Regions from separate parts of the Homo sapiens genome. Here region 1 is linked to region 2. Evidence: fine-mapped expression QTL. Tissue or cell type: whole blood. Region 2 holds a variant in brackets; the other region holds the start of a gene. All regions are shown on one strand. Distances are between the middles of the regions.

Evidence for each region. PIP is the estimated chance that this variant, and not a neighbour inherited with it, causes the effect.
Region 1: BLK starts here. The variant in region 2 is fine-mapped to the expression of BLK in whole blood (TOPMed, PIP 0.95).

Annotation. Positions count from the first base shown.
Region 1 is chr8:11,489,618-11,498,632 of GRCh38, forward strand. BLK (BLK proto-oncogene, Src family tyrosine kinase) reads left to right here and starts at 4,770. Exons shown (of 13, transcript NM_001715.3): 1 at 4,770-4,974. RefSeq lists cis regulatory regions at 2,129-3,389, 3,463-5,083 and enhancers at 2,552-2,701, 4,703-5,902, 4,792-4,981, 4,992-5,081.
Region 2 is chr8:11,553,566-11,564,593 of GRCh38, forward strand. It overlaps BLK (BLK proto-oncogene, Src family tyrosine kinase), which reads left to right. Exons shown (of 13, transcript NM_001715.3): 7 at 1,178-1,324; 8 at 1,767-1,919; 9 at 3,093-3,272; 10 at 4,397-4,473; 11 at 7,737-7,887; 12 at 9,414-9,545; 13 at 10,338-11,028. The coding sequence ends at 10,543. It overlaps BLK-AS1 (BLK antisense RNA 1), which reads right to left and starts at 4,700. Exons shown (of 5, transcript XR_948956.3): 1 at 4,325-4,700; 2 at 2,501-3,096; 3 at 2,153-2,297; 4 at 579-638; 5 at 1-15. RefSeq lists enhancers at 4,870-5,159, 9,806-9,855. The variant C/G (reference allele first, on the strand shown) is at 4,110.

The DNA of each region.
Region 1 (9,015 bases), 65 kb before region 2:
GTAAGTTAATGGTATTTACTCACATGGAGACTTTTCAACTTTTTAAAAAAATAATTGTTCTGTGCCTCTTTCTCTTTCCTCTCCTTTTGGGACTCCTATTACATTTGTGTTTGAACACTTTATATTGTCTGGCAGGTCTCTAAGGCTCTGTTTACTTAACTTTTCGTTCTCTGTTCTTTGGATTGCATAACTTCTGCTCTATCTTCAAATGTACAGCTTCTTTCTTCTGCCGTCTCAGATCCGCTCTTGAACCCATGTAGTGAATTTTTGTAATTTTCAGCTGTAGAAATCCCATGTGATTCCTTTTTTATAATTTTCATCTATCTATCCAAAGTATCTATTGGTTCACTGTTAACAAAATTTTCTTTAATTCTTTGAACATTTTTCCTTAATTCCTTGAGCATAGCTATAACAACTTCTTTGAAGTTGTGTCTTAATCTACTGTCTGTGTTGGTTTTTCTGGTCACACTTTCCTGTTTCATTGTATGTCTAGTAATTTCTGGTTGAAAACTAGACATTGCAGTGATTCTAGACTCCATTCACTTTCCTAAAAGTTGTTGGTTTTCTGTTTTAGTAACTTTTCTGGACTTAAATTGCAGAATTAATCTCCTCCATGGTGTGCAGCCACTGATACTACAGTGCAGTTTTTATTATAATATTTTTCTTTGTTTTTCAGTCTGGCTCCCTAAAGGTGTCCTCTATTCTTGTATTATATGATGATGAGACAATTATTTAGACAGAAGTTATGCTCAGGTACCTTGAACAACTAAGCCTCCCATCTTCTGCTGCCAGAGCTGTGTGTGGCCGAAGAAACACATTCACATGTACAAGTCCTCACGGAAGGTGGGAGGGTGAGACAGGGGTGAGGGTTGAAAAAGTACCTATTTGTTCCGATAGGTACTTTTTGTGGCAAAACCCTGTCTCTACAAAAAATACAAAACACTAGCTGGGTGTGGTGGCATGTGCCTGTGGTCCCAGCTACTTGGAGGCTGAGATGAGAGGATCACTTGAGCCCAGGAAGTCAAGGCTGTAATGAGCTGTGACTACATTATGGCACTCCAGCTTGGGGGACAGAGTGAGACCCTGTCTCAAAGAAGGAAAAAAAAAACTACCTATTGGGTACAATGTTTACCATTTAGGTGATGGGCACACTAAAAACCCAGACTTCGCCACTATGCAATATATGCATTGTAAGAAACATGCACTTGTACCCCTTAAATACATAAAAACAAATAAATTTTAAACTAAACAAAAAAATTTTTGCACATCGTCAGGTCTCCCTTGGCTCTCACTTTTTGCTGCCTTTTTGGGTTTCTTCCCTAGTCAGAGATGTGCAGGGAGTTTATTGTCCCAGCCCTCTCATGGCTTGCTTACTTCCAAGTTCTCATCACAATTCTGGCTGATCTCCTGTCTACCATGAAAAGAAGCTATAATCTCAAGCCAGTAAAGCTGCAGATTTTTATTTTCTCCCTAGAACTGATTCCATGAACTTTAACCCATAAAATGCAGATTCTCATCTCCCCCATCCCAGACCAAATCTACCAACTTCTGCTGGTATAGCTACTAGTTTTCTTTTTATCTATTTATTTATTTAATTTATGTTTGAGGTGGAGTCTCGCTCTGTCACCCAGGCTGGATTGCAGTGGTGCGATCTCAGCTCACTGCAACCTCTGCCTCCCGGGTTCAAGCGATTCCTGTGCCTCAGCCTCCCTAGTAGCTAGGACTACAGGTACCCACCACCACACCGAAATAATTTTTGTATTTTTAGTAGAGATGGGGTTTCACCATGTTGTCCAGGCTGGTCTCGAACTCCTGACCTCAAGTGATCTGCCCCGCCCTCAGCCTCCCAAAGTGTTGTGATTGCAGGCTTAAGCCACCGCTCCCTGCCTAGCTACTGGTTTTCAGTGACAGCCCTCAAACCAAGTCCACCATTCCCATTAGGTAACCTGTGCTTTTCCTCACTCAGGCCAGGGGCTGGGGAGCTTCAGGCAAGATGTCCGTAGACTCATGGCCATTCTGATGCAGGCCATTTTTAAGATTAAACACTTATCAGATCATTGTCTGCTTTTGGTTTTTCTAGTACCCAGAAACAAACATTTTCTAGTACCCAGAAATTGTTGTTTCTGACAATTTTGTCTAGTTTTATACTTGTTTTCTTCAAAAAGAAATTGGCCAACTTCTTAGACCCTTCTGAGGTGAATCTTGGACTGGATTGGTTTTATGTTTCTTCCACTTACTTTATTGCCTACAGCTTTTGATTTTGATCAGAGATGTACTGATATTAGGAGGCTGGTGAAGGCACATGGAAGGAGAGCTGAATTTTGCATAAGTCACCTCAAATGTACAAAAATAAATGGCAGAACCAGTGATGCTGAACGCTGAACTGGGCGTTTCAGAGCTAGGGTCTAGTCTCAGTCCCGCCTTGAGAAAACCGCTTTGAGGTTTTCTACCAAAAGGCTCCCCAGCCTCCCCTAACAAGTGTCACTGTTCCCATCTTCTCCCCGGGGTCCTTTCCCCACCTCTCTTCCGCCTTTCTCATGGGCCCGTGACTGTGAGGGTGAAAATGGCTGAAATTAACTTTCACTTCTGCTCAGACATCTGGAACCCATGAGCAAAGTCATTTCCTTGTTTTCTTTCTGAGTGGCTGCTGGAATCGTGTGTGTGTGTGTGTGTGTGTGTGTGTGTGTGTGTGTGTGTGTGTGTCTGGTATTGTTATTTTCCAACCTCTGTCTGTTGGGGTGGGCATAAAGGTGATGTCTTATCACAGATCACATAAGGGCCAGCACACCTCCCTGCAAACTCTCACATCCCCTCCCACTCTAACCTTGGGTAGACAGACCATGTATTTTCTTTGTAGGATGCTGGGTTTCCTGCTCTCCACTACATTCTCTATACCCTCAAGTCCAAGTATATAAAAGTTGTCCAAACGTCAGCTATTTAGGCCCTATTGAAAAAATGTTAGAGGCGGTTCAGGCAGCGTCACAACATCCTGGTTCAGTAAAAGACTCAGCCTAGGGATCTGTCTCTGAGAGTCTGTAGGAGTCTTAGTCACGAATCATGTTCAAAGCCTTCTCCTTGGCAGCTTCCCCCAGTGACCCCTGATAGAATTATTGCCTCCGCCTCTGGTCTAGCACTGTGCCCCGTTGAGGCCTCTGTGGCTACATCTACTACGCTCCACTGCAGTGATCTGCTTATCAGGCCCCTTCTCCAAGCTCCTTAGGCTGAGACTCTCAGAGGAGGATGGAGTGTAGCTGCGTTGGTATCCCCAGCCTCCAGCAGGTGCTTAGCACAGAGCAGGTGTTCAGAAAAACAGTGCTGCATTAATTGAATTGAAATAGGAAGACTAAGTTACCTCATCTCAAATCAGTCACTTTTTAAATCAGAAGCTCGCAGAGTTTGGAACTCATGTTTCATGTTTGGATCCATGTAGTAGGTATCAGGAAGTGAATGTAAGAGTAAATTAACAGGAGCTGCCATGGACTGAGCAGGCCCAGGGTTCTGGACATTGTTGTGAGCCCTCTGCTACCACGTGGAGAAGATCAGCTTTGGGATTTAAAGCAATTAGCCACATTCACATCAGCTTCCAGGTATTTGCAGTTTATTATGTGCTAAATACTGTAATAGATACTTTTTATGCATGAATCCATTTATTCTCACAAAACCCCTTGGGGAAGTGAAACAGATTATTTCCATAGTGTCTTAAAACCCCAGAACTCTGCGTTGCTGCGTCTATTGACATGAACACCTGTCAAACCTGCAACTCATAGCTCAGTATTGTCTCAGTCCAATCCAAGGAAATGAACTCCTTGAGAAAGCTGACATTCTGGACCATGGGGTAGAAGCTACCCTGTCTGCCTCCCACACCCACTCTCAAGGATCCAAGACTATGAAGGGAGAAGAGAGAGCCCACCGAGTGACTTCCTCTTATAAGCCAATATCAAGACACTAGTGGAAAGGAACCAGCTGACCAGTGGCTCACTGTGTCTGGCTGGACCAGCAAGACTCTGACGTCATCACAGAAGCCTTCTTGGTCCCATTGGTCCTTTGACTGCTGTGTACAGGATGCCACCCACCACTCCAGACACCACTCACCACTCTAGATGTTGGGATCCTTCTCCCGTTACCTCCATTATTCTTGTTCTCTACTCCTCTGAGTTTTCATAGCCAAGCAAATTTCCACCATTGAAGAGGCTCTGAGATCCAAGTCAACTAACTACTGGCTAGGGTACTGTAAAACACATGGGAAATTAGCTTTTACCAAACACCAATTCTATGCCCACCATTCATACCCATTCTACCATTTAATGCTGATAGTATCCTGTGAGCTAGCTATTATTAGCATCATTTAAAGACAAAGCAAAACCAGTGAGGCTGAAAGAACGGCTGCCCTGGTGCACACAGATGGCACATGGCAGAGCCCAAGCCCTCTCCATGAGATCTGCAGCGTTTGTCCACACGGCAGGGCAAATTACCTTGTAGAGTCAGCATGGAGGTTTGCTAACTCTGCCGGACTTGGTGCAGAAAAAATACCAGCCGTGCTGTTAAACCAAAACCCCAGGAGAAAACTTTCTGGTGACAGAAGGGCATTGTGACCCACGTTGCCCAGGGCCAGGGACAGGGCAGCTGCTCATGGTCCTTCCTCACGAGTTTTCCTGGAGCAGAGGGATACCCCCAAACCCAGGGAGCCCACAGGAGCTTCAGAAGGGCTCGGCTGGAGGGCGGGGCCCCTGTTGCACTTGCTCACTGGGGACTGGGGAGGCTCTGATCGCAGACCGGGGGTGCTGCCACCTCTGTCTGCTGCCGGCAGAAAGCCACAAGCCATGAAAACTGATTGAGATGAGAAGAATTCATCTGGGACTGGCTTTTGCTTTAGGATGGTGTTGGAAGTTGCTCGTTGTCGCTAGGAGCCTGCTCCACTGTAAGGGTGTCAGGATCTGAAGAGCTATGGTGAAACACCACTGAAGCATTGCCAAGGTGAGGCCCTGCGTCTTCCGGGTTCTTTATCGTCTTCCTTTAAATTGTGCAAATGGTGCTGTAAGGCCTGTAGTGGGGCAAGCAAGCAAGGACATTGCTGTGGGTGCCACAGACGGAGGAAGAGGCATGAATGGATCGCTGCCTCAGCTATGAATAGATTGCTCCATGGTTTGTGCATTTCCAGTTTTGAGAATTTTTAATTTATAAAAGGTCATCCATCCAGGGTAGATTCTGCTTTTTGGAAAAGGCAGTGAATGTGCCACAGAGGAGAGAAGGGACGTGGGATGTAGAGAGGGGGTTGAGCGGGCACACACAGGCCACTGCTGCGCTCCCGGCGAGTCACTCGGCCTCTTGATAGGAGGTGATATTGACTGTGCAGAGCTGACAGAGGTTAGTGGTCACAGGCGGGGAGCATCTGGCTCAAGGCAAATGACTGTTGCTTTCGTTTTATTTGTTTGTTTCTGAATGAAGTTGTTCCATTTTTCAGGCATTCAGGAATGGGGTAACTGAATAGATGTAATGATGATCTTCTTGTTTAAGAGATCTATTTCACCAGGAAACACCAACTGTGAAAAGGAAAGCATAGTTGATCACATATTTTGAAAGGATTTGTGTAAATTGTAAGGTTTTGACAACGTTTCCATTTATCTGGTAATGCGGGTGGATGAAGTTCACCCTCATCCACCCACATTACCAAGGAACTAAGGAATTGTGCGTTTGCAGTAACAGAAGAAATTGCTGTGATATGTGCATATCCTCCTCCCTCGGGAGAGTGGGACTTAATTCCCCTCACCTTGAGTGAGGTTTGGACTAAGAGTATGGAAAGGGAGAAATAGTAGCTCTGTAGAGGAGAAACCTGCAGATGCCAGCTTCACCAAGGGACCAAGCTTAGCATCACCGGGAATAAGCTGGGCTGCTATTGTGAACTGCCACGACAGTGCGGTTCTTCCCACCAACTCATAACCCCAGTCAAATCATGAGAAAACATCAGACAAATCCAAACTGGGGAAGATTCCACAACATATTTCACCTTCAAAAATGTCAAGGTCATGAAAAACAAAGAAAGACAGGCAAAGCGTCACAGATCAGAGGAGACATGATGGTCAGGACACCCAAACCCAGAATTCGCATCCTGTATTGGATCCTAAAGCAACACCGCAAAGGTCATTAGTGGAAAAATAGGTGAAATTTTAACAAGACCTGGGGTCTCGCTAATATTGTGGTAACAATTACTGCTTAGTTCTGGCAAATGTACCATGGTTACGTAAGGTGTTCACATTAGAAGAACCTGGTGAAGGAAATATGGAAATTCTCTGTGCTATCCCTTGTAATTTTTCTCCAAATCTAAAATTACTGCAAAATAAAGAGTTAAAAAAAATTAGACTCATTCTTCCTCAGAGCAGGAGTAGCCAAATCCTGAGCATTCTTGGGAAAACTGGCGTTCATGGCCTGGTGATCACACCTTCTCTTTGAACATTCTGGAATATAGCAGGCCTTTTGAATTTTTGACCATCCATCATTCTCTCTCCCAACCCCTACCTGATTCCAGAATAGCTCTGTATTTGCCTCTCTTCATAGTATTTCTCATGGATGATTATATTGTTGTTGTTGGTGTCCAATGGGTTTTGTGGGGGTTGTTTTTCGTTTATGTTTTTTGTTTTTCAGAGATGGGGTCTTGCTCTGTTGCCCAGGCTGGAGTGCAGTGGCAAGAGATCATCGCTCACTGCAGCACTGACCTCCTGGGCTCAAGCGATCCTCCCAACTCAGCCTCCTGAGTAGCTGGGACCACAGGTACGCCACTGTATCTGGCTAATTTTTTAATCTTATTTTTTGAAGAGATGGGGTCTCGCTTTGTTGCCTGGGCTGATCTCCAACCCCTGGCTTCAAGCCATCCTCCCACTTTGGCCTCCCACAGTGCTGGGATTGCAGGCATGAGTCACTGTGACTGGCCCAGCATGCATTTTTGAGCCTTTGCTCTGTGGCAGGGGCTGCAGGACGGAATACACTCTCATCTGCCCAGCGAAGCTCACTGCACTGGTGCAGGCTCCTGGCACCCCAAGCACAGGCCCAGCTACCCAGACCTGACTCCTCTCCAGGAAGGAAGCAGAAAGCCAGGAATGGAGAGAATGAGGACCCAGGCCCCTGGGGGAGTACAGAATTCCAGCCAGGAATCTGCCGTCCTCTGGGCTCAACCACCCCACAGAATCTGGTCAGCCAAGTGGCTGTGAGCTGGGCTCGACAGCCCTTCCTCGAGAGTAAACTGTGGCCTCTAGGATGTAGAGAGGGGACTCAAAGGGCCAGATCCCATTTGAGTGAGGATTCTGACCTTGTGAGCCCACCTGCAGCCTGGGGTCTGCAGCCTTGGGGACTGGCCACCGGTGGCCAGCATCCTGGCTTGCAGGGTTCACGTGTATAGAGAGGTAACAGCAAGACAGAGAAACCTGGCCCCTCTTGCAGGCCCAGCAGAGCGGGTGAGCCCTACTCAAAGGTGATGCTGCGCCTGATTAGAGAAAAGCTTCCAAAGCAGGTGAGGAGGAAGAAAAAATGATGAAGCCGCAGGAAGACAGCACGTAGATGGAAATCTCAACATACTGAGATGGAAATCAATCACAAAACTCTTACAGGAAAATCACAGCTAAAAGTTGGTGATTACATGTGGGCCTGCAGTGCCTTTCCTGTCACATCTGCTACCCCACTGCCAGCCTGCTGCTACCCCACAGCAGCCCTCCCATTTGTGGAATGTTCCCTGGCGTGCTCCTGCTTGCCTGAATCCCTTCCCCACCTTCCCACCTAGGCAACTTGCATTTGCTCTGACGTCCAGGGCAGGTGCGAATGTCTCCTCCCAGTCACAGTGCCCAAGCCCATTTGTGTGTCCCCAGCAACCACCAGCACACACCCAGGGCTCTGGTTTGCAGGCCTGCCAGGTTCTCTGGACCAAAGCTCCTGAGGACAAGGACATGCCCTACATGTGCCTCCAGGTCCCAGCACCCAGCGCAGTGCCTGGCCCACCAGGGGTATCTGGTAAAGTGGTTCTTGAGTTAAAGACACAAGGGCAAAACCTTAAATGAAAATCAAGGTTAAGACATGAGGATGAAAGCTTGAAAGAGGAAAAGCAAAGATAATTGAATGATCATCCCTAATCGTGGTGCACCCCAGTGCCATCAGCATGCTGGGGTTTTGACAGGACCCTTGGAAGAAAGAGAAGAGGCATCTGAGGCCTCTGGCACATTCCACTTCCTGTAAGACAGTGTGGTATAGATGAAAGCATTGGGGCTTCCTGCCAGCCAGGTCAGTCTGGCTCTGCACCTGCCAGCTGGGAGTGTGAAGTGGGAGCAGTTGCACCCACTCTCAAGCACAGACATGAGAACTGAACAGAACCACGGAATGGGGGTCCAGAGCCCAAGACATAGACGAGGCTCCTCCTTGTCCACTGTGGGGCTTGTGCAACCCCTTCATCAAAGCGCTGGTGCTTTCCACATTGTAATCAAGGAAGTTTTCTCACGTTCCTTCTCATCACAACTAGCTGCTGGCCTTTTTGCACACTTTGGCACCTAGGATGCTGAACCTGGACCAGTGGGAGGCAAACAAGACACACCTGGGATGCAAAATGTAAGGAGGCTCCCATGCTCAGGTCGTTCAAGTGCAGGAAAAGTTTGTGTATGTGTGAAACGCACAATGCCATGTGGTGTCTATAAGGGCATTTGAGGTTCTGTGCTTAATAGATGAAGTGGGTTCTGAGCATTGAGTCTGTGGATTCCTGATGAGTTTCCTGGTGCTCTGAGCTCCGTGAACTTGTAAACAAGCTTTTGTGTAGGTGGGTACTTACAGTTTTTGTCAGATTCCCAAAGGGGTCTGTGAACCCCAAAATATTTGGAATCACACAGTCAAATATCTAGGAAGACTACTTTAATTTTCTCTCTCAGCGTGTTGTGGATATGAGGAAGTGGAAAGGACTTGGACATAGAAGTCAGACAAAGCAGCCACATCTGAGTGGTCTCGTCCTGCAGTGTAGTGGTTAGACGGCTGGCCTTGTCAACCAGA
Region 2 (11,028 bases):
CGACACAAGTGCAGCCTACAAAATGGAGAGAAAAGCCCTTGATGAATGAACTCCCTAAGGCCAGGCTCGGGTTCCTTAGAGACTGGGGGCACAGCTGCACCCGGGCAGGGTCGGGGAGACAGTTTGCAGCCTCTGGGCTGAGGCTGGGGTGGGGGTGTGGAGGGGCTGTGGCAACAGCATGGCGTACGCCTCTGGGTGTCCTTTTGCAAGTAGGTGATGAGAGAGGCACATTGGCTGAGGGAAACTGGAGGATGGAAGGGGGTTGAGGCAGGGGAACTGACAGGAGAGGAAAGAGCCTTAAGTCAAACAGGACCGCGGAAAACCAAGCGTCCACAACGAGAACGAGGGGTCCGTGCCTGACCCCTGGCGGGGAGGCGTGGTACTGCTCGAGGTAGGCGCGGACTCGGGGAACCGGGAGCCCCCCAGCCTGCCGCGAACTCTGCTGGGCCCCAGCGTCCTCATCTCCCAAATAATGGGTAAGGGGCGGGGTAAGGTCATGGTACCCAAGTAGCTGGACAGACGCATTTTATAAAAACATCAAGTTCATGGAAAAGCGTTTCTTACCTGGAAATTCTTACCTCCTAAATTGTCCTTAACCCTTGACATCTGCTACCACTTGCCTGCGGGAAAACATTAACCTAGAAGACAAAATAACAGGTGTATGTAACAGGCAGCAAATGACTTTGAACAGAGCCCCTGGGCATAGCTTATTACGGTGTCCGCCATGGACATGGGTACTTGCAGCTGTGAATGGCTATCTGCTTGTAGGAGTAAGAGATACCCTCTTTAGCCAGAAAATAAAGCCCCTAGTCACTCCAACGAGACTAGATTTCTCAATAGTCCATGACAAAGGGTCCCCGAGTGACCAGATGCCCAAGTGGGGACCTACATGATTGCTGAGAAACTGTGCTGCCTGCCGCAGGGCTCTGTGATTCCCTGGCTGAGTTTTGCAGGATAGTGGGGGGATGCCAAGGTCAGAGTCAGATGGAACTTACAGGGGAGGCTTCCAAAAGCATGGAGGTTGAGATGCAGGGAAAGGAAACTTGTGGAGGGAGTGCTGATAATGAAGAACAGAATTGGGGAACTTTTTTCAAAGCTTTAAAATGAGGCCCAAATCCCAGTCCCGTTTTTTGTCTTTGTGCCTTACTTCTCGTGTGTGTCTTCATGAACCCTCCAGGTGCCTTCTCCCTGTCTGTGAAGGATGTCACCACCCAGGGGGAGCTGATCAAGCACTATAAGATCCGCTGCCTGGATGAAGGGGGCTACTACATCTCCCCCCGGATCACCTTCCCCTCGCTCCAGGCCCTGGTGCAGCACTATTCTAGTAAGAGGGGGCGTGCAATGGGGGCAGGGACTTGTGCCAAGAGCCCCTGGATCTCTCGCTAAGATTCCCAATTGTGTGAGTCATTGGTGCCACCTTGGGGGATGGAAAGATTATCCCAAAGTTAGGCCTAAGGAGGTAGCAACTCTGAGCACCGGGAATTGGTGGCCCTAATTCCCTCTCCTGGCTCAGCAGGGAACCCCTTAGAGAGTAGCAAGCATTTTCAGTCTTAGAGTGAGCAGGTCGATTTTAGAGATAGCATGCCCTGCTTTGCGCAAACGAAGAGAAAGAGTTGAGTGTGTGTGCATGTGCAGGCGTGTGCACACACCCATGCAGGGGGTGGGGTGGCTGGGGAGTGGAGGGCCAGCTAGGAATGATACAGCTCCCAAGGTAGAGCCTGGCTGCTCTGGTAACCCCCAGCCCTGTCTTTTCTTCCCTAATGCAGAGAAGGGGGATGGTCTATGCCAGAGGCTGACCCTGCCCTGTGTGCGCCCGGCCCCGCAGAATCCCTGGGCCCAGGATGAATGGGAGATCCCCCGGCAGTCTCTCAGGCTGGTCAGGAAACTCGGGTCTGGACAATTCGGCGAAGTCTGGATGGGTGAGTGTGTGCACACGTGGGAGCATTTCTCCCCCCATTCCACCTGCGCCGCATCCTGAGTCCAGGTTCAGCATTTTCATAGCGTGTCATCCCTCCCCCAGAAGTCTTGAGAGGGAGCGAGGACAGAGGCGAGGACACTCATTTTACAGAGGAGGAAGTGGAGGTGCAGAGCCGCGTTGTAACAGCTGGGACCGCTTATGGTGGTGGCAGAGCAGGAACAGAATCCAGCTCACCCAGCCCCGAAGTCGCTCCCTCCTTCGTTCTCTGCCTGAAGCTGGCTTTGACAATGAGCTGCAGCGGCGCGTTAACTCCCCTTAGCTTTTCATCACCCAGATGGAAACAGGAGGTTAAACGTGATGAGCCATGATGTTCCAGAGCCTGAGTGCACACCGAGGGCAGCCGTGGGACTTTGGCCAAGTCACTGAAGCTCCAGGCCTGGTGTCCTCACATTTCCATCGCTGCTGACACCTGCCCCCTTCCCCCCCCCGCCCACCAGGATATAAAACTCGTGTTCCGTTTTATCCCTGGATTGGTCCATGAGTCCTCCCTTACCTGGGGCTGGTCCATGAGTGCTCCCTTACCTGGGGCTGATGCCCACGGTGCTTTTGGCAGGAGCTGTACCCAGGTCCCTGCCAAGGCCCATGTCCTCTAGAAAAGCAAGTAGAGTTGTCTTTTGCCCTTCAGGGGACTTCATGGAGTACAGGGAGAGTGTGGAGATACAGATAGTTTAAGGAGTGGGACAGGATCGCCATGGGGCTTCAGAAGGAGGGAAGGAGACCCCCATGCGTCATCCTCCTGCCCAGTGTACCCCAGGCTGTGTGCTTATTTCCACCAAGGAGTTATTGTGTGATAGAAGAGACTCATTATGTAGGGGAGGGGTGGGGGAAGGACACAGGTTCCGTGCAGGACAGAAGGACACAGGCCCAGGGTGTGGGGCAAATAGGTGAAATGCCCCCCAGGCAGGGTACATTCCTCCACTGCCTGAGGCCCCATATAGAAGGGACCTGGAACGCAAGGTAGGCACCACACAACCATGGCCTCCGGAACTGCATGTTCCAGCTCTGGCACCTGGAATGGGGTGGCACCTGGGCACTTACCCCGATTTTGGTTAAGGGATCACCTCCGAGCAAGCTCTCTGTCTTCTGATTGGCTTCTTCACTCCCCCGGGCTCAGGTTACTACAAAAACAACATGAAGGTGGCCATTAAGACGCTGAAGGAGGGAACCATGTCTCCAGAAGCCTTTCTGGGTGAGGCCAACGTGATGAAGGCTCTGCAGCACGAGCGGCTGGTCCGACTCTACGCAGTGGTCACCAAGGAGCCCATCTACATTGTCACCGAGTACATGGCCAGAGGTGGTGCCCCCCGCAGAGCCGCATCCTCAGAGCGAGGCGGGAGGGCCGGGCTTAGCAGGAGGAGGAGGGTCCGCTGCGGTGGGTTCACCAGGCCAGGGGGTCCTGCAGATCTAGGGCATGGCACGGTGTGGGGACAGGGAGGGATGGAGGGAGGGGGAGGGACAGAGGGAGGGTGAGAAACAGGAGGGTGAAGTGGTTCTGACAGAGCCATGTTCTCAGCCCAGGAGCAGTTCAGACAGCATTTCTGGAGTGCATCTTCTGTGCCTAGCACTCTTTGATGCCTGCTGGGAGGGACAGAGCATTGCAAAGTCAGACGAACACCAGGCCAGGCATGCAGGGACAGTACTAGATCCAGGTCTCCTGCCTCCTGGTCATGCAACCATTTACAACTGTGTGAATATTTTACAAGGATGGCCAGAGAGGTTGGGCTTGATGGCCTCTGAGGTCCACGGCGTGGCCAAGTTCTCATGCCACTTTCTCACCCTCCTATGACCCTGACCGCACACTGCTCCTATAGGATCCTAACATGCCCATGTTGATATAGCTCCCTAACAACTGTCACCAAGGGGCCCCCGGTCGGAGGCTGTGCTGGGGGTGCCTCTAGCCTGCCCCTAGGGCAAGCATCCATCCCTCCCAGCTTTCTGATTCCAGGGGGAGCTGCATTTGTCCCCTGCACCAAACCTGGGGGACAGTTCTCTCCATTCTGGTGCTTTCTTGCTGATGCCTGGTCCTCAGAGGCAGAGGGTGTCTGCCAGCAGGGATCAAGGGAGCGAGGCCAACACGGGGGGAAAGACAAGAAGGGGCATGAAACTTCGAGTCAGAACTGGGGTCCCACTC[C/G]CAGCTCCCGGCTGGGTGACTTCAGACAGGTCCCTGCACCTGGCTGAAACCTAACTTCTGGGCAACTGCTGGTATATTGGCTGCCTCCCGGGGTGCTGAGACTGGCATTTTGTAAAGTGGAAGGCACTCGGCAGCAGTAGGTAGATCCTTCCTGATGCACCGAGAGATCTGAGGGTGCAAACTCCCACTTCCCGCGCCCATGGGGAGCCACTCACACCAGAGAGAGGCTGGCACCACCAGGGGCGGGTCACTTTGCAGAAGGGCACTTGCAACTTCTCTTTTCTTAGGATGCCTGCTGGATTTCCTGAAGACAGATGAAGGGAGCAGATTGTCACTCCCAAGGCTGATTGACATGTCGGCGCAGGTTGGTGAAGTACCAGGTGCAGAGAAAGGGCGGCATGTGCCACCTGCTGCCCACAATGGCTGCTCGTGCCTTACCACCCCATCCTCTCAGCCAGCAGGAGAAGTCAGGGGGTACTGAAGGCCACCTTCCTCTAGGCAGATATCCCCAAGGTCACCCACTGCACTTGGACTTGCAAACCCTGGCCACTGTGCCTCCTGCCCCACGCAGCTGTGAGGGAGCCCAGGGAATGGAGCCTTAGACCCGGGCTGCTGTGTTGGAATGAGGCTATTCTGTTCCGAAGGAAGAGAGGGCGAATGAATGTCATGGGAAACACACAGAGTTAGCAAGAGTTCCATTGAACCCGGCAGGCAAGTGTGTTCTGTTGTGACCTCATCTCTTCCTTAGATGGTGCCCACAAACATCTCCTGTAGGACTTCCCATCCCAGGGGCCCTCAGCCTTTGCACAGCCCTGGCGTCGACCCCAGGCTGATGGGCAGGCCTGAGCTACACACAGATGCCAGGGACATGACTTCTCTGAGCCCTGGAGGACAGCCCCACCTTCTGCCACCAGGGAATTGCGAGTGCTGGACCTCCTTGGCTACCCAGGACTGGTCCTCAGTGTCCCTCACGTTCACATGCAGAACTTTCTGGACTCCATGGGGTGAAGAGCAGAGTGGAGAGGAGGGTTTTAGCCGAGAGCTCTAGCTGGCAGGAAGCACATCTGGTGGCCCTGTTAAAACTGGAACTCTCAGCAGAAAAGTTTTGGTCTGTGGTCAGCCTGTGAGGCACACACGTGCGTACACATACACACACACATACAGCTGCCACCGAGAGGAAACGCTCCCACCCACCGCCCACATCAGCCCTCCCACCTCGCCCCTCGCCCAGCCTTACCCAGTAGCGCCGCTGCAGGAACTGATGCCACAACGCCTTTTTCCGCTGAGGTGGGCAGACAGCCATCTGGGCAGGCTGGTTTTGGAAAATGAGTGCTGGTAACCGGCTTCAAACCCCAGGGCAGTGATAAGCCTGCCCACTGCTGCTGCTTCCTTTCCCCTTCCTTCTCTCACCCTCCGCTGTCTCCTATTCAATCCCCACTACACCCCCTTGGGAAATCTCGTGTGACCCAGGGGCAAAGGATGTGAAAAGCCATCGGAGTTTAATACCTGGATGTAGCCACAGAATCGGGGGTGAGGAGCCAGAAAATCAGAACTTCCCAGAAGGGCAGCCTCTAACCACATGCTGACCATGCCAATGGCTCTCTAAGCACACATGTACACACACACACTCTCACACACATAAAAACACAGACTCACACACACACGGACAAACACAAACACATACACAGACTCACACAGACACGCAAACTCACACACAGACAGACACACACACAGACACACAGACTCACACACACAAACTCACACAGACACACAAATACACAGACTCAGACTCAAACACAAACTCACACAAACACATTTACACAAACTCACAAACTCACACACACAAACACACACACAAACACGCAAACTTACACACACATGAGCAGACACACACCCGGCCCTTCTGGGCTCTTCTTTTCTTACTCCATAGGAAGCCATGCAAAGTCTCGCCAGACCTTTCTTCCAAGGCCAGATCTGGCCAACCCCACAGGAACCCTGCAATCACAATCCCTCGGGCCCCACTTTGCAGCCAGATGCCACCGGTTCCCATGCCCCATGCCTCGCCACCCCTCTACCTCCTCTGCCCAGGAAGCCTTGAACACTTCCCACCTGGCAGAATCCTTATCATCATCCATGGCTCAAGCGTAATGTCATTTCTATGAAGGTTTCCCTGGACAAGAAACTGCCAGAGAGCCCTTAGCTCAGGTGTTCCCGGAAGCACTGTTCTTGCTCAGCAGATCTGGGCAGCTTCTTCTTGAAAGCAGATCTGGGCCCTACTCAACATTTTTTAAAATATATTTCTGGTACTGTTCAATAAATATTAGTTATCAGAACGAGTACTGTTAGATGCTGCCCAGATATATTTAGTACTCAGTTTTATATTCCCCACAGTCCCATATTAGTAAATGAGTATTGATTGCATGGTGTAGCAAGGGGATGGATGGATGCATGGATGGGTGGATGCGTGGGTGGGTGGGTGGGTGGGTGGGTGGGTGGATGGATGGATGCATGGATGGATGGATGGATGGATGGATGGATGGATGCATGCATGGATGGATGAATGGGTGGATGGATGGATGGGTGGGTGGGTGGGTGGATGGATGGATGGATCCATGGATGGATGGATACATGGAAGGATGCATAGATGGATGGATGGATGGATACATGGATGGATGCATGGATGTGTTGATGGATGGATGGGTGGGTGGATGGATGGATGCATGGATGGATGGATGCATGGATAGATGGATGGATTCATAGATAAACCAACAAAATGCAAGCATAAGGAGAAGTGGAATCAATTCTAGTGCTGGCTTCTTGAAGTCGCATGTCTGAAGAGGTAAATGGGGTCTCTGCTTTCTGCCTCAGTTTCTTCGTCCATTGATTGGGTGAATAAAGCCTTAGTTTCCTCAGCTAAAAGGTGCCAAGTAGCACCAGCTGCTATCCCTGGCCCAGGCTGGTGATCAGGGGAGGAGAGACAAGTCTCTTCTTCTTCACAGCCTCTGTCCACCTGGATCTGCCAGTGCTCCCTGGGTGCCCCCACGGGGCAGGCGCTGGGTGAGGTTCTTGGTCACAAATCAACCTCGTCTAATGCTTGCCTCAACCCCCTGCCCTGGAGACCACATCCCTCATGTTCCATGTCAGGACTGTGGCCCCTCGGGGAGGTTAAGCAGCTTGCTAGAGGTCAGCGACTTCCCGAGGGCCTCCAGCTCCAGGAGCTGTGCTTCCAGCCAGCCAGTGAGAGCTGCCTGTCCTTGCCTCCTGCTCCCCCTCCCCCTCCTTCCTTACCATTTCTTCTCTTCTCCCTCCCTCTCCTTTTCTCCTGCCTGTGTTCTTCTATCTTCCATCTCTGCAGACCCTTGGACACAGCTGTGTGGAGCGAGAACGAGGAGGGGGAGGGGCACAGGTAGCCCCTGTGTCTCTGATGCCCACGTTGCTGCGTTGCTGTTCTGGGCTTCTAGGAGAGGAGTTTATTCGGCTGAGGAGCAACACAGTCACCTTTCTACTCCATCCAAGAAACAGCTCCTTCCCCAGCAGCCCACAGGGGCTGTGCGGGGGACACAGTGTGGGCTCGGTCTTGGCGTGGAGGCCCCCAGGCTGTCCTTCACCATGTGCCTGTTCCCTCAGATTGCTGAAGGGATGGCATACATTGAGCGCATGAATTCCATCCACCGCGACCTGCGGGCGGCCAACATCCTGGTGTCTGAGGCCTTGTGCTGCAAAATTGCTGATTTTGGCTTGGCTCGAATCATCGACAGTGAATACACGGCCCAAGAGGGTAAGCACAGCCCCTAACCACAAGGGAAACCTAGGGCCTTATCTTTCCCAGCTCCTCAAAGCCGCCTTTAACTTCTCCCAGCACAGCCCTGAGGGAAGACACCTGAGGGCTATACGGTTTCTACAGCTCTAGATCAGCATTTCCTTCATTTACCCAAATGTGTTCAGCAGAATGGTAGTGCCCTGAGACCTCCCATGGAGGAACAGCTTTAGGATAAGGTAGGTTTGGAGAAACAGCAGTCCACCCTACTCCCTGTCTTGGAGATTCCCAGTGCACATCAACATATTAAAGGCACTGAGAAGTCCTGCAGCAAAGAAACAGTTTATGTTTGCCTCACCTAGTGCCTCCCAAACTAATTTGAGCTCCAAATACTATTTTTTTTTTTTTTGAGATGGAGTCTCTGTCACCCAGGCTGGAGTGCAGTGGCACAATCTTGGCTCACTGCAACCTCCGCCTCCTGGGTTCAAGCAATTCTTCTGCCTCAGCCTCCCAAGTAGTTGGGATTACAGGCGTGTGCCACTACACCTGGCTAATTTTTGTATGTTTAGTAGAGATGGGGTTTCACCATGTTGGCCAGGCTGGTCTCGAACTCCTGAATTTAGGTGATCTGCCTGCCTTGACCTCCCAAAGCGCTGGGATGACAGGTGTAAGCCATGCCCAAATACTATTTTTATATAGTCCCTATTAACCTTCCATGGAATTAGGCTTTCACAGAGCACACTGTGGGAAACACAGCTCTCATGTGCGATCAGCAAACCAACCTGTATTAGGGTGTCCACGGAGCACTGTTTTACTCTGTGCATATAACTGAGGTGGAAATCTACGTCACAAGAGAATCTGAAGGGGTCACATATATTTATCAAGCTAGCAAGCAGTGTCTGCTGAGCCTATGAGTCAGATGACAAGCAGACAGGATATGGCTTGTTCTCTCGGGAACTTCAGGCTGGCTGGGGAGACCGAGAAATGGAGGCCAGGGGAGGCTGTGAAGTGCCAAGCCCTGAGGTCTGCTCCAAATGCTGGCCGGGGCTGCAGCCATTGAGGTGCTTCACAGGGCAGCCGGATGTGAGTTCTTCCTCATAGCGGCCCTCGGAGGTACAAGTGTCACCATTTCCATTTTGCAGGAAGGGACTAACGGAGGCGCCCGCAGGTTTAAATGGCTTGCCCAGGCCATGTCTTTTAAATTAAACAAGGCCCCTGTAAGGTGAAACAGGCCCCTTCCATCCCAGGTGGAAACGTGGTGGCTGCCCATTGAGGCCATCGCTCTCTTTTTAAAGAACCAAAGTGGGTGACTGTGTGGTATTGGTGTCCATATCGTCTTTCTGTGCTGCTGATGTCGTGTCTGCACTCACCTGGTCATGTGTCCTGGTGTGCGGTAGTGGCTCCCCCGCCATGCCTGGCCGCCCCGCCCTGTGAGGCCCCGCAGTGGGGGCTTGATGGAAGGACAGCAGGAGCAGGGGTAGGGGTGAGGATGGAGGGTAGGGGCCACCGGCCGTGGCCTCCCAAAGCTTGCATGGCTTTTCCCACAGGGGCCAAGTTCCCCATCAAGTGGACAGCCCCGGAAGCCATCCACTTCGGGGTCTTCACCATCAAAGCAGACGTGTGGTCGTTTGGAGTCCTCCTGATGGAAGTTGTCACTTATGGGCGGGTGCCATACCCAGGTAGGTGGCTCACCCCGCAGCTCGCGGCTCCCTGCTTTCCCGGCCGGCCCTGATGGCAGGTCGCCTGTGCTTGGTGCCTGTGGCTGCCCTGTTCTTTTCAGAGTGAGTCCCAGAGCGAAGACGGAGACCCAGGCATGGCATCTGGGGTGGAGCTCTGCCCCCTGCATCACTATTGCTCTGGGCCACAGGGCTGTGTCTCCTTCCTCCAGCAGAGGTCAAATGAGTCCCTCAAACTGAAATCAAGACAAAGGGCACATCCGAACTCAAGTTTACTCCCAGTGGCTTGTTCTCAGTTGAGGACAGGTTGTGCCTACCTTGGCTTTGCACCCATAGTGGATTCCCCAAAGCCCCTTCCTGTGTGGCCAGAATCGTGGACGACAGCCCCCAGCCCCAGTCGAAGGGCTCCAGCCACTTGGCCCCCACAGGTGGGCAGGCTCCGGGTCACCTGCTGCTGTGTGCACCTGGCAGCTGCCCATGAGTGATGGGCTTGGCTGTGCCCCTGGTGGTCACAGGTAATCAAGAGAGGGAGGGTCCCATCTTCAGAGGACCTGCCCCGTACTCAGGAGAAAATCTACAGCCTCATTTCTAGGCATTCCCCAGGCAATAAAAAGTAAATAAAGGGCTGTTTAGAGACCGGGCAGCCAGGCAACGCACGAGGCTGGAGAAGTGGTCTGGGACTGTGGGCACTGCTGTCCCTTGCCTGGGCCCACTGTGCCCCGCGGGACGCTCAGGGCCCCCCACCCACCGAGGACCCCAGCCCCTCACCCCCGCTTGCGGTCTCCTCTGCCGCAGGGATGAGCAACCCCGAGGTCATCCGCAACCTGGAGCGCGGCTACCGCATGCCGCGCCCCGACACCTGCCCGCCCGAGCTGTACCGCGGCGTCATCGCCGAGTGCTGGCGCAGCCGGCCCGAGGAGCGGCCCACCTTCGAGTTCCTGCAGTCGGTGCTGGAGGACTTCTACACGGCCACCGAGCGGCAGTACGAGCTGCAGCCCTAGCCGGCCGCGCCCGCCTGCGCCCCGTGCCCACCTCTGCGCGGACGACCCCGACTTCCGTGCCATCCCAGACGGGCCGCGAAGGCGGGGTGTCGCCTGTGCCCTTTTCTCAGACCCGGAATCCAGTGGGCAGAGGCAGCTTCGCAGGGGGTCCCCGGACGGACTCCTTCACCGACTGCACCCCCGGGCGAGTTACGCGGCCTCTCTGTGCCGCTTCATTTGTAGAGGGCTGTAACAGTGACCTCGCACGGTCATCCGGAGTACTAAGCCCCAGTAAGGTGTTCAGGACTGGTAAGCGACTGTCATCAAGTAAGGCCCCCGTGCTGGGCACCCCCCGTGCTGGCCGCGTCCCCGCCTCTGCGCCCTGCGTGGACCCCGCCCTGCCCCGCTACAGAAGCCAGACTGGGTCCCGCGGACGCCAGCAGGGGCAGCCCCAGCCTAGGCTGCGCTCCAGCACTGCGGGGCTTTTCTGCAATAAAGTCACGAGC